Linked DNA regions of Homo sapiens: all the other regions are linked to region 1. Evidence: fine-mapped expression QTL. A gene starts in region 1. Each other region holds a variant in brackets. All regions are shown on one strand. Distances are from middle to middle.

What was found. PIP is the estimated chance that this variant, and not a neighbour inherited with it, causes the effect.
Region 2: its variant is the best candidate, but not a certain one, in a credible set for the expression of LGALS3 in tibial artery (GTEx, PIP 0.89).
Region 3: its variant is the best candidate, but not a certain one, in a credible set for the expression of LGALS3 in esophagus muscle (GTEx, PIP 0.65).
Region 4: its variant is the best candidate, but not a certain one, in a credible set for the expression of LGALS3 in nasal epithelium (TOPMed, PIP 0.63).

What each region holds. Positions count from the first base shown.
Region 1 is chr14:55,126,720-55,130,939 of GRCh38, forward strand. It overlaps LGALS3 (galectin 3), which reads left to right and starts at 2,533. Exons shown (of 6, transcript NM_002306.4): 1 at 2,533-2,581. RefSeq lists a silencer at 2,229-2,828 and an enhancer at 3,179-3,368.
Region 2 is chr14:55,368,169-55,372,168 of GRCh38, forward strand. ATG14 (autophagy related 14) reads right to left here. Exons shown (of 10, transcript NM_014924.5): 10 at 1-1,757. The coding sequence ends at 1,451. It also overlaps a transcript of FBXO34 not described here. Among named protein-coding and RNA genes, the nearest start is that of ATG14, 42 kb to the right of the region's middle. The variant T/C (reference allele first, on the strand shown) is at 2,157.
Region 3 is chr14:55,719,604-55,723,823 of GRCh38, forward strand. LOC124903320 (a long non-coding RNA gene) reads left to right here. Exons shown (of 2, transcript XR_007064179.1): 2 at 1,820-2,132. Among named protein-coding and RNA genes, the nearest start is that of LINC00520, 75 kb to the right of the region's middle. The variant T/A (reference allele first, on the strand shown) is at 2,576.
Region 4 is chr14:55,101,518-55,105,737 of GRCh38, forward strand. It overlaps LOC124903318 (a long non-coding RNA gene), which reads right to left and starts at 1,812. Exons shown (of 3, transcript XR_007064178.1): 1 at 1,624-1,812. RefSeq lists a cis regulatory region at 1,480-2,158 and an enhancer at 1,634-1,928. The variant T/C (reference allele first, on the strand shown) is at 2,614.

The sequences.
Region 1 (4,220 bases):
TCACCTGAGGTAGGGAGTTTGAGACTAGCCTGACCAACGTGGAGAAACCCCATCTCTACTAAAAATTGGCCAGGGTGGTGGTGCATGCCTGTAATCCCAGCTACTGGGGAGGCTGAGGCAGGAGGAGAATCACTTGAACCTGGGAGTGGAGGTTGCGGTGAGCCGAGCAAAACTCCGTCTCAAAAAAATAAAATAAATAAATAAATAATCGGCTCTGCTTTCTTCTCCAATTACTGTCTTTCTTTCTCTTTTCTGCTTATCCTTAAAGACTTTCCCTTTTTGTTCTCATCTTCATCTCCTACTCTCTTCTGGCTCTAACTGAAGTTCTCACGCAGCTTCCCTCCTGACCTTCTGGACAGCCACCTGCTTTCCCAAGTTTCCTCCTTTCCCTCCTGTGGAGATGCCTCTCTTAGAATCCTTGCTTTTATCAGCGGCTTACAATCTCTGCATCCGTAGAAACCAGACAGCCTTTTTGTTTGAGGGCTAACACTTGCCTTGTCCCTATTTCAAATAACACAGTGAGCTGTACATAGAAGTTACTCAATGATATCTTAATTGATTTTATTGGGTTCCTTTTTACGCTTATCTTAGAAAAGGGATGTGACTTTGGATTGGGTAATAAAGAGCCGTTTATTGCATGTGTACAAATTATAAATTCCCAGGCACACCCTGATCATAGCAGGATCCTTTTGTTAGCTTTATGGGGCATGAAGTTGGCACCAAAGTATTCATGGGGATGTACAAGTAAGGAAGGGAAGCCAAAAGCATGTCTGATCATACAATCAGGTGTAAGCAAGCCCCCTAAGTAGCCAGGGCATGAACTTTGTCTATCTCTGAAATGACCAGAAGAAAAGGCAAGAGTGTGATTCATCCCTTGCCTCCACAGCAATTCATTTGGCTATCTACTTTTCTTATTACCAATGGCTAACCCTCTAAGGGTACCACTCCTGGCCATGAGGCCTCATGACTCAAAGTCTTAAGATTTATAGCATTTTCCCTGGAGACCAAGGGCATTCCTTTGGGTGATACCTTTTTACTACCCAGAGGTTAGTCATTTACTATGGGTGATCCATTCAAATAAATTGGTTGCCAGGCTACCTCTTCAGATAAGAGTTCAAACTTGCATAAATAATCCCCAGCCACACTGTGACTTCTATGTGCAAGCCTAGAGGGGACGATGTTGCAGGAACCGTGCCAACCACTAAGACACTTTCAAGTTTATCCTAGAGAATGCCAAGACAGCTTCTCAATTCCATCAAGTGAGTCCTTCACAGGAACATTTCCCTAAGTTGAAAAACTGCAGGAAATAATTTATCTTTATGTTATTAATTGGTTACTATAAGGGCTACAGGAATTATTTAGGAACCAGATGATACCTGGTTTTCTCCATAGTTTACATAAGCCAGTCCCTGCAAAGATTCTTCCCCTACCCCCCTTAATTTTTTTTTTTTTCCTCAGAGATCCTTGTTCCAACCTGCAAGGATTCTTTGGCCTGGTGCTTTTCCAGGTAAAGTGTAAGAGCCAGGATTTCTGGATTTTGTTCCTAGACATGAGTGAGCTTGGATAAGTAAATCATTTTCTCTTTTAGTCTGTTTGGGCTTCTGTAACAAAATATCATAAACTGGGTAGCTTATAGGCAATATACATTTATTTCCCACAGTTCTGAAGGTCGGGAAATCCAAGATCCAGGCCAGCAGATTTGATGTCTGGTGAGGGCCTGCTTTCTGGTTCACAGAGGGAGCCTTCTGGCTGTGTCTTCACAAGGTGGAAGTGGCAAGGGGTCTCTCTCCGGCCTCTTTTATTAGGGCACCAATCTCATTCATAAGGACCCTGCCCCTATGACCTAATCACTTCCCAAGGCCTCCACTTCCTAATACATCACCGTGAGGGTTAGGATTTCAACATATGAACTTTGGCGGGATATAAACATTCAGACTATAGCACCCTGACAGTAAAAATGAGATAATAATACTTATCTCTTTCTTCCAACAAAAAGATAAGGTGAAGTTAAAAGGAGGGTATATATATATATAATGTGAATTTCCTGTGTAAAATGTGTTAAAGAGTTGTCTGATTAATTGCTTTATAAGGGAATTGCTTTGAGACTAGGCCTATTGATCTAGAATAAGTAGTCAATTTGTAGTCAGTTCCCTAGGGAATAGACATTGAAAAGATTTTTGGTTTTGTATTCTACAAATAAAGCAACCTATTAATTGAATTCCTCTCAGCGAATTCTTCACTCAGGTGATTCTGGAGAGGGCGGGGGACAGACGCGGCCGCAGCCCAGGTCCCGGGAGCGCCACGGAACCTAACGGTGGCAGCGGAGGTCGCGCCCCTCAGTGCCCGCGCTCTCCCCGTCGGGAGCTTCCTGGTCGCCCCTGCGGCGGCGGCTCGGGGTGTCTGGCCGGCGCGGGGCTCGCCCAGCCTGGTCCGGGGAGAGGACTGGCTGGGCAGGGGCGCCGCCCCGCCTCGGGAGAGGCGGGCCGGGCGGGGCTGGGAGTATTTGAGGCTCGGAGCCACCGCCCCGCCGGCGCCCGCAGCACCTCCTCGCCAGCAGCCGTCCGGAGCCAGCCAACGAGCGGTGAGCTGCGCGGGGCGCGGGGGACGCGGCTCCGGCCGGGCAGGGGAGAGGGCGCCCGGGCGCTGCTTGGGGCGCGGTCCGGAGAGGGTTCGGCTCCCCGGGACCGGGCCGGGGCGCGCGCGGAGAGCCCCACAGCCTGTGCTCTGCCCTCCAGGAGCGGGGCGGCGGGCAGCGATCTGGGCCCGGGGCAGTCGCCTTTGATTATCGAGGGCGCTGGCGTTCGGGGAAGGTTGGCAGCACCTTACGAGACCCACACACGTCCCCGGGGCGGCACGGGCCACCTTCTGCGGAGCCTCGTGGGCTTCGCCGCCGTCGCACCTCCGCCGCCTGCGCTCTGCGGCCCCAGAGTAAGCCCCATCCGGTGACGAGCCGCAGTCTGGTCACCCCAGTCCCACCAGGTCCCGCTGCGAGGGGAGGCGGAGGGGCTCGCTCAGCAAACCAGACGGCCGCTCCAGTTTCTCTAATTGGGGTTGGAGCCCCGTCACCCTTCCCCAGATCACGGCCGCGGGGGAGCGAAGGGACTTCCCAGGACTGCATAGGGCGCCTCCCGGGACCCACAGCTTGGCTGGCCCGGCCCCTTTTGAGCATCAGCTGAGGCTGGACTTGGAGGAGATCTCGCTGTGGAGCGCGAATGAGTTCTTCCACCGGGACCAGCTGCGGCCGGGCTGCAGCCGCTGTCTGGTTGCTGATCCCACAGAAAATGGTGCTTGCCCCATGGCCTGAGTGGGCATGACCCGGCTTTGCAAAGACTGCAAACTCTAAGCTTTTCCGAATCAAATGCCCCTCCCTGCCCAGACTGTCTGTGCCCAGGAAATGGTGGGTGTGGCAAAATGTTGGTCCTAGCGTGCAGAGCCCTACCGGGGGGCTTTCACAACATGTTTGAGAGTTTATTCTGAATTATCGGGTGCTCAAATAGAAACACTAAAACGATTGCCCTCTGAGCAGTAGGCGTTCAGGTCCAGGGAGTCGGGGACGCATGGTGGAGGCTGGGACTTAGGTTTCAGCCTTACCCTTCAAGTTCGCCATGCGGGTTCCAGAGACTGCGGAATGTTTGTAAAGTGACTCTGGGAATTGGGTTGCTGCGCAATGAGGACACCTGGACCTCAGTGACTCAGGCTGTCTCTAGGATTCTGGGGAAGAAATGGGAGAAGGCTCAGTTAATTCTGAAGAAAATGAGACTGATACAATTAACTACTTGGGCACAGGGCCTGAGAAGAAAAAGCTTTCGTCAGCTTCCAAAGTTCTGATTTGTTTACCTAAGGTTTTTTTTTTTTTTGAGACGCAGTTTCGCTCTTGTTGCCCAGGCTGGAGTGCAACGGCACTATCTCGGCTCACCGCAACCTCTGCCTACCGGGTTCAAGCGATTCTCCTGCCTCAGCCTCCCGAGTAGCTGGGATTACAGGCATGCGCCACCATGCCCGGCTAATTTTGTATTTTTCGTGGTGGTGGTGGTGGGGGGGGGGGGGTCCCTCCATGTTGGTCAGGCTGGTCTCGAACCCCCGACCTCAGGTGACCCGCCTGCCTCGGCCTCCTAAAGTGCTGGGATTATAGGCGTGGGCCACTGCGCCTGGCCTACCTCAAGTTTATAAACATTTCATACTAGGAAATTGTGTGTTTCCATAAAAGGTAAAGTTGAATA
Region 2 (4,000 bases), 240 kb after region 1:
TCACTAAAAGAATGACAAGACACGTGAGCTGAAAATGATCTCCTGCTGAGGGAAATTCTTTTTTTTTTTGAGACGGAGTTTCGCTCTTGTTGCCCAGGCTGGAGTGCAATGGCACAATCTCGGCTCACTGCAACCTCTGCCTCCCGGTTCAAGCGATTCTCCTGCCGCAGCCTCCCGAGTAGCTGGGATTACAGGCGTGCGCCACCACACCCGGTAATTTTTTGTATTTTTAGTAGAAACAGGGTTTCACCATGTTAGCCAGGCTGCTCTCAAACTCCTGACCTCAAGTGATCCGCCTGCCTCGGCCTCCTAAAGTGCTGGGATTACAGGCGTGAGCCACTGCGCCTGGCTGGGAAATTCTTTCTTTATATTGTGCTTTCCCCAGAACAGAGCAGAGTAGCATCAGCCGTAAGGATCTGCGCTGCATTTCTGAGCAAAGCTGTGTCCTCAGAGCAACAAAGAGTTCGGGGAAACAAGTAGGATGGTTTCCCCTGAAAACACCTGCCACCTACTCAATCCCATAGAAAGAAAGTGGACACCACAAGAATGACCAGAGGCCACTTAACTAAGTGGCTTTTCCCCTGTGCCCAGGCAGGCATTGAGCTTACATAAGGGAATGACCTTCATGACTTATTTTCACCCAGAAAATATAAGTTCAATTTCAAAATGCTCATAGTGTGGATGGCAGGAATTCAACTAGGTAAGAATAAGCTTAATTCCCCTCAGAATACAAGAAAATAGTTAAAAACTCTCTAGACATTATTGCAGCCAGGATTTCTTCCATTTATGGATGTGGGTCCTAAAGAAAAAGACTTTCATTTTCTTTGGTGTGTGGGGGAAAGAAAAACAGGAATGTCTGACAAACTACGACAGAGCAGCATGAATAAAATACGTGTAACTCACCCCTCCCAAACAAAATCAAAGGACCAAATTAGAAATTTTAAATTGCCTGCTGGTTCTCATACAAAAAACAATGGCAGAAAAACTCTTATTAAAGAGCTTTTATCTTTCATGTCCTAATAATCAAGAATCACCTCTTGTGATTCAACCAACCTCTAAAACTTAAAGTGTCAGGAACAGTCTCAGCACCGCAAGGACCAGCACACTGACCCATATCTGTGGGCCCGGTGGCCCGGGCCCAGAGGGAACCCAAATCAACTGCTTCCTTGGCAGAACTGGCCACACGCACAGGTCCTCCTTCCACCAGCACTGGTCTGGGTAGAAAGACCTTCGACCCCTGTTCTCTTAATTATCATAAGCATGTTGGTCACCATCACAGGCCACTTGGCAAATAGAAATGTTTGTCTCCCTGCTTAAAAAGACAAAACAAAACAACACTTTAACCTCTTTGTTCCAGACACTATCTTAACTTAAACAGAAAATGTTTACTAGAGTGTAGTGGGAGAAGAACTTTCTTGATGCAGATTTGGTATGTTTTGGTCCATGCTCGTTAACGGTGTCCAGTGTAAGCTTTAAACCAGGAGGTCACCGAGGCTGCTGCAGAGGAGATCATCCCACCTGCACTGCTGCTCGCGATGGGTGGGGACGCCTGGGTGCTCTGACTCTGGGAGACTTCCACAGACTGGGAAGGGATATCACAAAACCGGGGACTAGGCAAGTTCTCCCAGTCTGTGCCCAGGTCGGTTTCTTCATCGCTGACGCGCTCATCTCCGCTCTCATCTGATTCTCCAGCAACTCCGGGATCCACAAATTCCATGGACTCCTCAAGGTCTGCTCGTACTTCAAAGGGCCCTGACCTGTGTGCAGACAATGAGGGTCTCTTTAGGATAACAACCATTCTCAACACCAGAAAATATGCCATCTTCCTGAAGGCCCTCACCTGAGGGGATGAGGGACGCCGCACACCCCATTCATTCCCCAAGTCTATGCAGCACTCCGTGTTGACATATGATTGCGTTTTCCTTTACCCAAATAATCTCCACCCAAGTTATAAATAAAATCATGATACCACACTTTCCCACAAGTCTGCCTACTTCATTGGTGATGACCGTGCATAGGAAAAAAACCTATTCACTGAGATGGCCCATGCTGGTCCTAAGTCTGACTTCCTGTTGTAAAGAACTGCAGTGTCTACGAAGTAAATACACGGCACTCCAATGAGACAATTCTAACAAAAAGCCACTTGATGTATACTC[T/C]GGATATTATTTAGTGTAATAAGTAATAAATGGTATACAAAGAAAACTCAGTGGGTTCCTGTACATATTTAAAAATATCACCACAATTTTCTAGGACACATTTCTAGCACAGAATGAGGCACAACTGTTTAGAATATATTCAGAGGCAATGTTGTATATTTCTGCACTGTATTTCAGGAGAAAACAATTTTTATTTCTCAAAGGTCCCTAATAACACCCTCACTGCCAAGTCCAATAACCCTTTCTTAGGCCTCATCCTCTTTGCTGGCACCTCAGCACAGGGAACCGAGTCAGCAAACCTCAGAAGCCTTTCTGCATTTCTTTTTTTTTTTATTTAGACAGAGTCTCGTTCTGTTGCCCAGGCTGGAGTGCAGTGGCGCCATCTTGGCTCCTGCAACCTCCACCGCCCAGGTGCAAGCGATTCTCCTGCCTCAACCTCCTGAGTAGCTGGGATTACAGGCACCTGCCACCATGCCCGGCTAATTTTTGTATTTTTAGTAGAGACGGGGTTTCACCACGTTGGCCAGGCTGGTCTTGAACTCCTGACCTCAAGTGATCCACCCACCCCTGCCTCTCAAAACGCTGAGATTACAGTTGTGAGCCACCACGCCCGGCCGCCTTTCTGCTTCTTTTTCCCCTCCCTTTCAAATGCCCCTCAGCTCCTGCTCCAGGGCAGCCAGGCTGCATGTCCTCCCTGTAGGCAGCCACCCCCACCCACTGCCTTCCAGGGAACTGCCCTGCAACCAGCTACAGGGTGGGACCAAGGTGCCGCTCTCTCCCTGCTGCTGCCCCCAAGATAAGCACACGATGCCTTGGTTCATTTAAGGGTTTCACTGATAACGACTTTGGGGAAAATAGGAGAGGTCGAAATAAATAGCAGGCAGAAATGAGAGCCTAGAATCGTATAGCTTGCCATTTCAGCCTATGGTCCCAAATTCTCCACAGCCTTCACAATGATGAATGGCTAGCACTGGCTTCCAACGCACCTCACCAGGTCTGCACCGTTGACTCACTTTTTACAGAAGCAAGCAGCCCTCATTCCTCCCAGACACCTGTGCTTCCCAGATGGATTAAGCAATAATAATAGCTAACATTTATGCTCCAGGGACTGTTTTTAGGGCTTTATTAAATTGGAAGATACGCCATGGGGTTTCCCACTTGGTCTCCAGTGAGCAATTTACATTTTCCAAGAGCCCCTCAGGCCGGGCGCGGTGGCTCACACCTGTAATCCCAGCACTTTGGGAGGCTGCGGCGGGCAGATCACGAGGTCAGGAGATCGAGACCATTGGCTAACACAGTGAAACCCTGTCTCTACTAAAAATACAAAAAATTAGCTGGGTGTGATGGCGGGCACCTGTAGTCCCGGCTACTCAGGAGGCTGAGGCAGGAGAACGGTGTGAACCCCAGAGGCGGAGCTTGCAGTGAGCCGAGATGGCGCCAGTGCACTCTAGCCTGGGCGACAGAGCGAGACTCTGTCTCAAAAAACAAACAAAAAAACAAAGAGCCCCTCAGACTAGGGGTGCTCTCAAGTTTACTAGGCCCCACCCTGCCCAGAAGTCAGTATTTTGCAAGGGTGAAAGGAGTAGGACTTTCTACTGCCCCTTGAATTTCTCTGCCAGCAAACTAATGGCCACTGCAGTTTTTAGCTCTGAGCACCCTCTTCTCAAGTTTCTCCTTGCACTTCATTTCTTTTCTCCCCTTTTTCTTTTCCTTGGCAAACAGTTCTACTCTAGAGCCATCTTTTCCGATTCCTCTCCTAGCGCCACTCCCAAATATCCTCTGGTTACTAAACCCTCAGGCTCATCTCACATATCTGAACCAGTCTCAAAACTTTAGCTGGCTGG
Region 3 (4,220 bases), 590 kb after region 1:
ATGTGAAAGAAAAAATGGGCTTTGTCTCATAAATTACATCCCATTAAATTCCAAGTATTTCTGAGAATTCAGGAAGAGGAACAGAGTAAGTTCTGTTTGTTCATGACTGAATAATTGCTAATTGGTTATTCATTTTAAAACACACAGAGAATTACATTTAATGCTGTTGTCTTCATCTGGAAAGAGATTTGTTTTGTTTGATAGAGCATAAGCTGTGACATCTTGGGGAAGTACAAATGACTTGGTCCTACCTGAAATTCACAGATTTGAAATTTTACAATTTCCTTTAGGTGAGAAATCAAATAATAGGTACTAAATTACCTTTCTAATTTATTGGTCCCATAACATTGCAAAAGTACCTCTCAGGCCTGATGGAGCCCTCCTGTTCCATCCACGGGGACTTTTTTCTCTCCCTGAAGACGGGCAGGAGTTCCTTCTCTTTCCTCCACCCTATGACACTTCCTAAAAACACTCTGTTCCATAAACTGTCTTTCTTGGTTTATTAAAAAAAAAAATCGGTGGTACAATGAGGTTCAATATGCAGAATCTGGCATGCGTAGCTTGTGTTGAAGGGCTGACACAGTTGAAATAATGAATTTCATTTATAAAAGGAATGCAGTTGACTACTAATAGTTTGAGTTTTCTTCAATTAGTGATGATGAATTTCCCATTCACTCATTCAGTAAATATCAGTTGATCATATTCTCTATGTTCCAATCTTACCCTATCCTTCTGATCTTTCTTTATCTGCTCAAGAACTTTCCTGCTGTTTAATTATCTGCTGCTAGGGAGATGGTGAGTGTAATCATGGATGAGAATAAAACAATATGAATGAACCTCTGGTTCTTAGCACAGTCCTTTAACCTATAGAGCAATTGTATTAGCCATCATTTCCTTTTTCTGGTAAGTGAGATTTCAAAATAATAACTGTATATTATAGCCATCCTGAGGAGTTTAAGAACATGGCCTCCAAAATACAATATCCTGAGATTGAATCCTAACTCTGCCACTTACTGTACAGGAGACCTTGGGCAAGACACTTCACCTCAGGGTGTCTCAGTTCTCTCACCTGCGAAATGGGATAATAATGTAACCCACCTTTTAGGGTTAGTGTGAGGATTAAATGAGATAATCCTAAAAAGTTCATAAAATAGGAAGTGGCACAGGGTAAATTCTCAGTAAATGTGAGCCATAATTATAATTGTAATCATTTTTTGATCTCTTTAATTTTTCTTAGTTATCATAGAAAATACAGCTGTGAAGAGTGATCATTGCATATAAATAATGACAATAACCTTTGGACTTACCTGATTCTTGTCTAAAAGCCTGCTGTGAAAGATGTTGTCCTGGGGCATAGTATACTGTTCTTCCTTCTCTCCCACATGCGGGAAAGGAAGCGCATAGCAATGAGATGGTAGATTACAGTGGAAGTCAGGAGACACAAAGTTGGGTGTTACACCTTCTTGATTATGGAACAACTCTGGGTGAATTCTTCAGTTACTTGCAGGTTACCTTTTCCTACATACAAAATTAAACTGTCAGAAACTACAGTTTGTGGCAGTGAGAGCCTTGAGACATGTACGTATCGTGGCTTATTATATATTTTCAAGAATTTTGTGTATAATGTGGTGCAAGTGAGCAAAAGCACACATCCTTGTGAGCCCACTGGGTTCCATGGAAGTCTTTTCTTTAACATGTTAAAAAAAACCCCAAAATACTGTCATTTATTGAGCCTCTAGTATGTGGTTCTATATATTTATTATCTCATTTATCCTTCAGGGCAATTTGATGACTAACTTGTATTGTTCTCATTTTTCAGATAAGGAATCTGAGCCTCCAAGAGTTGTAGTGACATGTTCAAGCCACATGGTTAGTGAGAAGCAGAGAAAGGACCTAAGGTCAGAGCAATCTTAAGCAGGTCCTCTGTGGTCATGGTTAGTGTGGTTTGCTTCCAGGCCAGACCATTTCCTTGCTGATGCAAGATTCTCCAGAGCTCTCCTTTTCCCCCGGGAAGTGGTGATTGGCTGCTCCATCAGCCTGTGTCCTTGAGTGACTGTGCTGGGCAGAATGCCCTGCCAGCCTGAGAGGGACCTGTGGTGTAGAACATGAAATAAAAACCTTTGTGGTTTTCAGTTATTGAGATCTGGGGGTTCTTTGTTACTGCACCATAACCTGGCAGATCTTAAACACAAAATCTTAATGATCTGTACACAGATTGAATACTTGGTGCCCATTTCAAACATTTTTAGAATAGGAAGGAAAACCCAGAATCCAAGAAAGCAAAGTCTTGAATTCTAAATTCTCGTGTCTTTATTGACAGTTTGGTAAAACAAGCAAACAAACAAAAACACACATTAAAAAAAAACAAAAACAAAAATTAGTCTTAAGGAGTTGTCTTTCAACCATGCAAATAATCATAAGAATCGTTGTCTTAGTTTTCACAGCTTATCAGAGGACTCTTCACCTTCATTTCTCTTGGTACTGTATCTATGTGGCCTGAGGAGGAATCATGGCTATAACGTGGTTTCTGCCTGTGCAAGCAGATTGAATTTATTTCTGTCTGAGCCCATCCCTA[T/A]CTGTCATCCAATTATCATCAATAAATATTTAAATGTCAGGCCAGCAGCCCCAGAAGGGAGCCCTGGGTATTAGGCCTTTGCGAGTCCCAGCTGATCGTTATTAATTCAATGAATGTAGTTGTAAATTGGCTAAGAATACACAATGGAAGCGATTACAAGTGCTCTTGTCAGTGTGGGCTCATTCCATTGAAAGATGGTTCAGATTTGCTTTTGCCTCATTCCAAGGAAATATGAGATGCAATTTGCTTCAAACTAAATGCTCGCTTAGTTTCTTGCCCAAATGTTAAACAAGAATAAGGCAGGTTGGAAGGACCATCTCTGGAATGTATTGTTCTGAATGACTTAGAGGTTTGCAGGGCCACTTTTTGAGCTAATGTAAATTGGCAGGAAAATGCTTTCCATTGAGATGAATTATGTGCTCAGGGTTACCTGTTTTTTTATCTGAGTTAGAGAAGTCAGAGTAGATAAAAATGAAATGACCCATTATCAAATAATCAATGAAAAAGCTACACTCCTGCAATGTTTCTGGATCAATATACAAGTTACCTTTCAGATAGATGAATTGTCCTTGTGTTGTTCAGAGCAGAACAAAGCCCGCCTCCAGCCAGTCTCCCCAAATGCACTCTGTGTGAAAACATAAAGCATTAAACCATCAGGGACAAAAAAGTGGGGTGCTGTCCACATGGCAGCCCTTCCCAAACGGTGCTCAATGAGACTATTCTTGGGAATGTGTTTGGTACACACGGATCTGAGGCACAGCTGTTGCAGGTTAAGGGCGAGGTGTAGAAGAGGTTCTGGGGACACAGCATGTTCATTCCCCAAGGGCAGGAGCATCAATCAGCAAGAACTTCCCGAAAGATATATTTCACATGATCTATCAAAATTTAAATTGCTCTACACTTTGTCCTAGCAATCCAATTTTAAGAATTCATCCTGCAAATTGTAGCTACACATGTATGCCAAGATCTTTGTGAGAGGATGTTTCTTGTTTGTGATGGTAAAAACATAATCACAAGTTGAAAATGTCCATCACAATGGGAATGGTTAGGTAAACTGTAATATATCAACACTGTCAAGTACTATCAGCTGTTAAAAGGTAGATATGTATATGCTAACATGTGATCTTGGGAACTTATTTAATCTCTCATGAATAACTCATGACTCCCACCGCCTTCTTCCATTCTAAGACCATTCCATGTCTTATTCAGCCCTGAATATTCAATATCTAACATAGGGCCTGACTCCATAATGCTAATTACATTTGATTAAATATTTGCTAAAAAAATTGAGGGTGCTGACAGAGATCCCCCTTGCCTTATGTTTTACTTATCCAATTTGTAAAATAGGGATAATAATAGTATTTAATAAGTATTAGCTGAGTGACAGATAAAATGAAAGGGGTGTGTGTGTGTGTGTGTGCATGTACGTATATATACAATGTTTTATTTTTGGAGAGACTAAACTCTAGAAAAGTAAGTGAAAAACTCATAGACAGAGCTAAGCAAAGAATCCCAAGATCCTCACCTGGGAGTGTGAGATGGGAAGATGAAAGAGGAGGAAAAGTAGCCTGTCCTGCACGTGCAGACTACTGTGTGCAGAGCTATCTGTTATATGCTTTTCACAGTTGTTTCATTTAAAACTCAC
Region 4 (4,220 bases), 25 kb before region 1:
CAAAAAATTAGCCGGGTGTGGTGGCACCTGCCTGTAATCCCAGCTACTCGGGAGGCTGAGGCAGGAGAATCACCCGAACCCAGGAAGCAGAGGTTGCAGTGAGCCGAGATTGTGCCACTGCACTCCAGCCTGGGCAACAGAGTGAGACTCCATCTCAAAAAAAAAGAAAAAAAAAAAGCACACTGAAGTTTTCAAGTTACTTTTTATTTTTTTTGAGACAGGTCTCGCTCTGTTGCCCAGGCTGGAGTATAGTGGCACGATCATGGCTCACTCTGCAACGCAACCTCAACCTCCTGGGCCTAAGTGATCCTCCCACCTCAGCCTCCTGAATAGCTGGGACCGCAGGCACATGCCACCACGTCCAGCTAACTTTTTTATTTTGGGTGGAGACAGGGGTCTCCCTATGTTGCCCAGGCTGGTCTCAAACTCATGACCTCAAGCAATCCTCCTGCCTTGGCCTCCCAAAGTGCTGCAATTACAGCCATGAGCCACTGTGCTCAACCAACAATTTACTCTTAAATGTTGCTATATATACATATATATATCACACATACATATTTATGGATAGAGAATGTTAAGACAAAAATGGAAACCATCAGTGACTCTGGATAAAGGATTGTAGGAATTCCTTCCATTGTTCTTGTAATTTTTCTGCAACATTGAAATTATATCAGATTAAAAGGCCCTCCTCCAACAAAGCAAACAAACCTATGAGTGTGGCCAGGAATCAGGCAACACTTTGGCAAGAGCAACCGGGAGGCCTGTGCTTCCTGCTGGGGCCAGAGCCAGCCCCAAATACGTCCACCCAGGGCCTGCAGGAGGGCATGAATAGCGACCCTGTAGGGTAGGCCTGGTTGGCAAGAGCACGTATTATGCAAATTCTGTCAACAACTAGACCACAAGCTGGGTTGCAGTTCCTGGCAGAACTCATTATGTCCTTAGAGCAGAGAGGCCTTACAGCTGTTTCGTGTTAGATGATTCACAGACAACGTGCAGCAAACCGAAGAATCATTGGTGAATGTGTGAATTGCATTTGCATTTCATCTCTTTTCATAAAAATTATTGTTTAAGTCTGCTTTTGTTACAGCTCACTAATAAATGGAGTGTATTTGCATTTTTGCAAGGAGGCCTGAATTTTTAACACCTAATCATCTTTACCAAAGAGCAAGAATCGGCTAAAGTTTTCCCATTTAGTAAGAGTAGTAATTAAGACATACACCTTCCCTAAGCAATTCCTTTTCAAAAAGGAGCACACATTTAAAGATAACTCATTAATATCTCTTCTGAGGCTGTTTATCCAGTTTTGTCATGGCTCTAGAGCACAGGAATCTTTTTTTCTCCTCCATCTCTTTTTTAGCCAGTCTCTGAGAATCTCTGAGTTGCTAAGTATTATTTATTTCTTCCATTTTACCCCCAGGAGCTTAGCCATTTTTGATTTTTTGGCTTCGTTTTTTGAGCAACTTGAATGTCCCACACATCAAAGGCCAATTAGCTAAAAGACAGGCTTCTTCACACAACCCCTAGTTGATATCAACCTGTCTTTTTCTCAAAGCAACAGGAAGCCAGGTGGCCAGCTCTAAAACCAATCCCACCACATAACGTTTTTCCTAACCTCTGACTTACACCTCCGGGTTATGCCTGGTTAACCTTCTCGTTTTCCTCCTGGGGCCAAGAGTGAGCTGCTGAGGAGTGAAACAGACAAAGATTCACGTTCCTCTCCGGCCGCCTATGGGGAGCAGTTTCCAAACTCCCATCCCGGATCACGCAGGGGCGGGGCAGTGCTAGCCTGGGGAGCACCTGGCCGACATGACTGAAGAGGCCCTGCCCCAGAAAGGCCTCAAAAACACTCGTTAAAGCTAGGGCTGAGTCATCTGGGTGTGGAGGCTGTCGGGTCACATTCTTGAAACATAACAGGCAAACAGGACAGGCAGAGAACATCTAGACTGTGGATTCTGTAAAGCTTTTTCAAGGCCAGTTCACAGAAGCATTCCCTACTCTGTGAGCGTGAAATATAAAGGTGAATGCAGCCCCAGTGCCAGCACATAAGGCCAGTCAGTGCTATACAGGGTCAGCTTAGCCCTGGGCTGACCCTTAAGATCAGGAAAAAGTTATGGGGCAGTGACTTCTCAGCAAGTCTTTTCCATGTTTCTGGTGTCTTCGAATTCCTAGCTGAACAGAATTTATCAAAGCAGAAGGTAGCTGTTTATACCCCAGTTTACCCAGGCAAAGAGAAATGCTTTGGAATTGAGATATTTTCAGGGCATGAGTGGTTTAGATCTCTGAAACTGGAAGACGAAAATCCAGGTTATTAGAGATCAGCAGCACCTGAGAGGCAGGCTTCCTGGCACCTGAAGACTCACAGACAAGCCTTGGTAGCCTGGCTTGTTTTCCTTGCAGTTCAAAACCATTTCTTTGAGGTCATGATCTGAAAGGGGACACTGGACCCTGAGACCTAAATTCTGGTCCCTATGAGTAAATGCTTCAGACAGATCAAGTTGGGGAGCTTCCACTGAAAAACACTGAGACTAACACCCTGGTGTGACAGCCACACCTGTCTCCAAAGTGTACACACCACCCCACCAGGACATCACCAACCTGACATTTAATTAGCAA[T/C]GAGACACTTGTTTTCACTCCTGTGGTCAAAGAATGGGGAAATAGATGCTTTCTGTCTCCTTGCCTTTGGTTATTTTTCTCCTACTTCCTGAGCTGGGCTGGGAGCAACAGAAAAGAGAAGGAAGGAGAAACCCAGCAAGGCAAGAGCAGCTCCTTCCCTTCTTTGACACATTTATGTTCTGCTCCTATAGTGGTGGAAGCAGGAAGTAGGGTGACTGGCCTGCTCCACTCACATTCTGATCATTTTCTCTACAAGGCAAGGATGGCTAGCACCTCCAGTTGTGTGGAATGCTTCTATCAGGGGCCTGTGTACGGTATCATTGACATCTGGAATGTCTCATTCAAGCAATGAGGGCCACGTGTGGTTGTGGATGGTGAGATAAAAATTCATCTTTGCCTCTGGAAAAACAGTCAGAAGGCATGCCTTCCTGAAGGCGGGCATATCCTCTCTAAATCCAGCATATTGTATAGCATTATGGAATAGAGCAGAAAAGAAACCTAACATTTGGCTGGGGGCTGGCTAACTGTACTGGAAATTTTAGCTATCTTCTCAATCTGCCACCAACTCTGAGGCAGATGGCCTTGTACCCGTTTTACAGACAAGGCAACTGGGGCTGTGGATTTGGCAAGGCGCTAGTTGCAGGACCTCAGGTAACTGGCAGAGTTAGGATGTGAACCTAGGTTGCTATCTACTCATCAAGCCTGTGTGTTCTCCATGGGACCAGGCATGCTGTGCTTGACTTTTCCACTGGTTCGACATTCAGGTCATTTGTTCATCCCTGGTCACCTACCACTTCTTCAGTTTTCCATGATTTCTTGAAGACTGCCAGGAGTGATTGTGAGGTCACTGGTGATTTGAATTTCATCTTTTTAATACATTTGATTTGAATTTTATATTTAAATATACTTGGATTTGATTTAAAAATTTTTTTTAACTATAATTAAAAACAGCCTAGGTATGGTGGCTCATGCCTATAATCCCAACACTTTGGGAGGCTGAGGTGGGAGGATCACTTGAGCCCAGGAGTTCAGGACCAGCCTGAGCAATGTAGGGAGTCCCTATCTCCATTATTTTTATTATTTTATTATTTTTATTTTTTAAAACTAGAGATGGGGGTCTCACTGTATTGGCCAGGCTGGTCTCAAACTCTTGGGCTCATGTGATCCTCCTGCCTCAGCCTCCCGAAGTGCTGGGATTATAGGAGTATGCCACTGCACCCAGCCTCCATTAAAAAAAATTTTTTTTCTTTAACCTGGTGGTTCATGCCTGTAATCCGAGTACTTGGGGAGGCCAAGGCGGGTGGATCACTTGCGGTCAGGAGTTCAAGACCAGCCTGGCCAACATGGTGAAATTCCTCTCTACTAAAAAAAAAAAAAAAATACAAAAATTAGCCAGGCATGGTGGCAGACACCTGTAATCCCAGCTACTTGGGAGGCTGAAGCAGGAGAATCACTTGAACCTGGGAGGCTTAAGAGACTCTGTCTCAAAAGAATAAACAAAAATGAAAATAAAAAAATTTAAAAACCTATAACTGAAAACACAATGTGTTGCTGTGCTAGGTACCAAATTATAATAATGCTGGCACATAACTTTTGCTGGCAGTCTT